Linked DNA regions of Homo sapiens: region 1 is linked to region 2. A link means that fine-mapping ties the variant in region 2 to the expression of a gene that starts in the linked region. Tissue or cell type: whole blood. Region 2 holds a variant in brackets; the other region holds the start of a gene. All regions are shown on one strand. Distances are from middle to middle.

The links. PIP is the estimated chance that this variant, and not a neighbour inherited with it, causes the effect.
Region 1: TRIM22 starts here. The variant in region 2 is fine-mapped to the expression of TRIM22 in whole blood (INTERVAL, PIP above 0.99).

The regions. Positions count from the first base shown.
Region 1 is chr11:5,688,590-5,691,216 of GRCh38, forward strand. It overlaps TRIM22 (tripartite motif containing 22), which reads left to right and starts at 1,201. Exons shown (of 8, transcript NM_006074.5): 1 at 1,201-1,310. LOC124902620 (a long non-coding RNA gene) reads right to left here. Exons shown (of 2, transcript XR_007062561.1): 1 at 2,089-2,627; 2 at 1,638-1,707. RefSeq lists enhancers at 881-1,873, 995-1,334, 1,306-2,505, 1,921-2,020.
Region 2 is chr11:5,656,401-5,659,171 of GRCh38, forward strand. The region is part of intron 1 of LOC107984302 (a long non-coding RNA gene); the gene reads right to left. It also overlaps a transcript of TRIM5 not described here. Among named protein-coding and RNA genes, the nearest start is that of TRIM5, 27 kb to the right of the region's middle. The variant T/C (reference allele first, on the strand shown) is at 1,542.

The DNA.
Region 1 (2,627 bases), 32 kb after region 2:
TGTTTGTTTGTTTTTTGTAGAGACAGGGTCTTACTATGTCACCCAGGCTGCAGTGCTATGGTGCAATGACGCAATCTTGGCTCAATGCAACCTCCACCTCCTGGGCTCAAGCCATCCTCCCATCTCAGTTTCCTGAGTAGCTGGGACTACAGGTGCACATCACCACACCCAGCTATTTTTTTTTTTTTAATTTTTCTTAGAGATGGGATTTCACCATGTTGCCCAGGCTGGTGTTGAAGTCCTGGACTCAAGTGATCCACCCACCTGGGCCTCCCAGAGTGCTGGGATTACAGGCATGAGACACCACAGGCCTCCATCAGTTTTTGATGGCATTATCTGGCACATGCAGTTAAACAAGAATACAATAGACAACAGGGTACAGAAGTATGTGCATGACGTATAACATGTTTCAGTGCTGCTTTTTAATTGATTGTGTAAAAATGACCAAACTTTTCTTAGAGAAGCAGGGAAAAGTGGAAAAATTATGAAGGCATGAGAGTAACTCAATGAATGATTATAATTAAACAGCATCATCTGTTAACTTCCATGTTCTCACCTGCCTCAGTGGCTGGGTAACATGACACTGACACAGTTTTACCTCTATTACTCTCTGGAATCCATCCTCATCTGGTCTGTCTGGATTAGGAGCAGGAAGTGATAATTAATTGATGGACTCTTAAGATTTAATGACATTTTGAGAACATTTTTTTCAATGGGCTCACACTAAAGATCCTTTTATTTATAAAAATAATTTTTTTACCATTCACAATGTCAGCTGCTAATACTCATCTTGTCAGCCCAAATTTGTAGAGCTTTATAACTGAGTATCTTCCTCGTCAGACTGCATTTCAAGAAGCTAGGTCCCAAGTCTCTGGATCTTTATTTTCCTGGCTTAGGTCTTAAATATAAGATAAATTCGACTAATAATTATAGGACTGCATTGGAATTCTAAGTATTCAGGCAAGCTGTATAACTGTAATTCACATTCTTTTTATTCAAATATTCTTGCTTGAGTAAACCACAGTAAGAATAAGGAAGTAGTGACTGAGTGCCTTGCCAGTACAGCAGATGCTAGAACATAATGTAGCATTACTTTCCCCAGGGTTTATTGTTATGTAAGTTCTTGTTCAGCTTCCTTTGTTTTCTTTCACTTCTGAGAATTTAACTTTCGTTTCTCACTCAGCTCCTGTGGGGAAACTCATTTGTGGAGACCAGCCCTCTGGCTTGGTGAGTGAATCTGGTTTACACCGGCTCCTGCCCTGCCTTCACTCTTCTCCCCTGATTCAAGACTCCTCTGCTTTGGACTGAAGGTGAGTGGAGCAATCTGTGGGAGCATAGAATGGGAGGCTTTGAGAAGAATAGATTGATTGTGTCTGGGTGAGTTTAATTTGTAGTTCTGAAGCTGCTCTGCATAAACAAAAAGAGGCAGCTTGTGAACTGTCTGCTGAGATGGCAGAGGAAGAAAGCACTGAGTCTGGGAGAGGGGTAACCTTTAAAGAAGAGAGGTTTGCAAAAGCAAAAAGCCTTGCTTGTTTCCTAGAGGGACCATTCATTTCTTCAATCTAGGTACCTCCATCACCTTCCTTGTTGGAAATAAAGCTCAGAATCTTAAGGGAGACGAGCACTCAAACAAAGGATTTCTCAGCAAAGCAATTTTATTTCTGTGCAGAGGGGTGCTTCTTCTTTGCCAGTCGCCATGAGAGCACACTAGAACAAAGGAGGAAGAAAGTTTTTATTCCTGACGCAAATCCTACCCCTTTGCCCTTTCCCCATTGGCTGGAGTCGGCCACACAATCTAAACTAGACTCAGTTGGCTAAACATTTTAACTTTCTTTAGATAAGGTGGGCACGTGAGGGAGAGAGGGGAGATGGGGAAGGGGTGTGTGTGATGAGCTAGATAACTAATCTTCTTCCAAAATAAGGAAAGGAATGTGAGTTGGTACTGATAACGCCTGGTACTGTGACATGTCTAGGCATGTAGCAAAAGCAGAAAGGAAAGAGAAGAGAAGAAAAGTGAAGTGGGGAGGGGCACTGTGAATTAAAGAATAAAGGATTGATCAGGCTATTTGAAGAGAAACCTTATCATACCCCACATTCCTATTCTGTCATTTTGATTTTTCCATTTTGCCAACGTGGATCAGAATTTTCTTTTATTCAGAGGCAGCAAATTCCTTCCTCCTTTCTCCCGAAGAAGCCTGTGCAATGAAGCTTTGTTTTCACTTTTCATAAAGCAACCTCATGATGAGGTTCAGCAGGGATGAGAGCCCTTATCTGGATCTGGGTATGAGGCGAAGGAGTCTTAGGTACTCAGTCTTCAGAAGTAAGGCCCTTTTGAAGGTTATCCTTTTACTTGCCTTCTGGTAACTTTTTGGATGCTGTCCATAGCTTTCCTGATAAATTAGCAGCCCTCTGGTTAGTCCGAGGAGAGAGGCCGCAGGACGGGCAGACTGCTGCTCATCTCTGCAGCTCCACTTTGGTCTCTTGTCTCTGAAGGTCCAGTCACAGGGAACTTGTTCTTCTGAGTACCCACAGCTTACTCTTCCTTTGTAGCAGGACCAGCCACAGAAAAAACTCCTCAGACACCGAGGTAAAGAAGGAAGGGGTTTATTCGGCCAGGGGCATAGGCA
Region 2 (2,771 bases):
CAGAGTGCAGTGGTGTGATCTTGGCTTACTGCAACCTCTGCCTCCCAGGTTCAAGCAATTCTTCCTGCCTCAGCCTCCCAAGTAGCTGGGATTACAGGCATGCACCACCATGCCCGGCTAGTTTTGTATTTTTAGTAGAGATGGAGTTTCTCCATGTTGGTCAGGCTGGTCTCGAACTCCCAACCTTAGGTGATCCGCCCACCTCGGCCTCCCAAAGTACTGGGATTATAGGCGTGAGCCACTACGACAGGCCATGAACAGACACTTCTTAAAAGAAGACATTTATGCGGCCAACAAACATTTGAAAAAAAACCCATCATCACTGGTTACTAGAGAAATGCAAATCAAAACCACAATGAGATACCATCTCACTCCAGTTAGAATGGCGATCATTAAAAAGTCAGGAAACAACAGATGCTGGAGATGATGTGGAGAAATAGGAACACTTTTACACTGTAGGTGGGAGTATAAATTGGTTCGACCATTGTGGAAGATAGTGTGGCGATTCCTCAAGTATCTAGAACCAGAAATACCATTTGACACAGTAATCCCATTACTGGGTATATACTCAAAGGATTGTAAATCATTCTACTACAAAGACACATGCACACATATGTTTATTGCAGCACTATTCACAATAGCAAAGATTTGGAACCAACCCAAATGCCTATCAATGATAGACTGGATAAAGAAAATGTGGCACATATACATCATGGAATACTATGCAGCTACAAAAAAGGATGAGTTCATGTCCTTTGCAGGGACATGGATGAAGCTGGAAACCATCATTCTCAGCAAACTAACACAGGAACAGAAAACCAAACACTGCATGTTCTCACTTATAAGTGGGAGTTGAACAATGTGAACACATGGACACAGGGAGGGGAACATCACACACCAGGGCCTTCGATGGGTGGGGGACTAGGGAAGGGATCGCATTAGGATAAATACCTAATTTAGATGACAGGTTAATGGGTGCAGCAAACCACCATGGTACGTGTATACCTGTGTAACAAACCTGCACGTTCTGCACATGTATCCCAGAACTTAAAGTGTATATATATATAAAATATTTATATATAATGCATTTATATATATATTTATATATTATATATAATGCATTATATATATTATTTATATATTATATATAATGCATTTATATATATTATTTATATATTATATATAATGCATTATATATAATATATATTTATATATTATATATAATGCATTATATATATTATTTATATATTATATATAATATATATTTATAATATAATATATATATATTTATAATATAATATATATAAATATATATATATATTATATTGTATTATATTCTGGAATAGCTGGGACTACAGGCCTGCACCACCATGCCCGGCAAATTTTTGTAGTTTTAGTAGAGACAGAGTTTCACCATGTTGGCCAGGCTGGTCTCTAACTCCTGACCTCAAGTGATCTGAGAGCCTCGGCCTCCCAAAGTGCTGGGATTACAGGCCTGAGCCACCATGTCTGGCAAAATCCTTTTATTTAGAAAAATAAGT[T/C]TATTTTTCCCATTCAGAATGACAGCTGCTAATTATATGAGAGGGGTGCAGGGAAGTGCTGAAAAGAGAAAGGCACGGTCCCTGACAAAGCCTCCACTCCTGGGGCCTGGGCCCACAGACTTAGGTGAGGACAGGAATTTCCGTTTTTGTGCCCAAATGTTGCATTTTCCAAGATCACCCTGGCCTGCTATGCCCCCATCCTGTGCCTATAGCAGGAAGAGACACAAGCAACTGAATGTTAAGAGTAGCAAATTGGTAGAAGAACACACCAACAGGCACCAGCACATGCTGGAAGGCCAGCGACCAATGGACCGATGCAGAGATTGGTCGGGGATGTCAGAGGACAGCCTGGCTGCTGGGTGGCCCAACTCCAGGGAAATCCACCTTCCTACTCCATCTTCCTTCTGGCCTCTTCATCCACCTCGCTGAGAGCTACTACCACTCGATAAAAAACCTTGCACTCGTTCTCCAAGCCCACGTGTGATCCAATTTTTCTGATACGTTAAGGCAAGAACCTGGGATACAGAAAGCCCTCTGTCCTTGCAATAAGGCAGAGGGTCAGAGCAGATAAACACAAGCCACCTGCAGGCAGCAAAGAGGAAACTCCTCCAATACTGTTATATTTTTCTAAGTGTCTATTACCCTGAATATTCTGACTGCTTTTGTCACTTTCTAGTGCCTTCAGGTTTACTTGATTTTCACATTTTGTGCAAGGTTTCTAATGTTGATCTATGGGTGAGGACATGAAGTTTTGTTAGAAAGAGTACAGTGTGTGCATGTGTCTTTATAGCAGCATGATTTATAATCCTTTGGGCACATACCCAGTAATGGGATCGCTGGGTCAAATGTGGCACTATACACCATGGAATACTATGCAGCTACAAAAAAGGATGAGTTCATGTCCTTTGCAGGGACATGGATGAAGCTGGAAACCATCATTCTCAGCAAACTATCACAAGGACAGAAAACCAAACACCGCATGTTCTCACTTGTAGGTGGGAATTGAACAATGAGAACACTTGGACACAGGGCGGGGAACATCACACACTGAGGCCTGTGGTAGGGTGGGCGCCTGGGGGAGGGATAGTATTAGGAGAAATACCTAATGTAAATGACGAGTTAATGGGTGCACCAAACCAACACGGCACATGTATACATATGTAACAAACCTGCACATTGTGCACATGTACCCTAGAACTTAAAGTATAAAAAAAAAGAGTACAGTGTAAC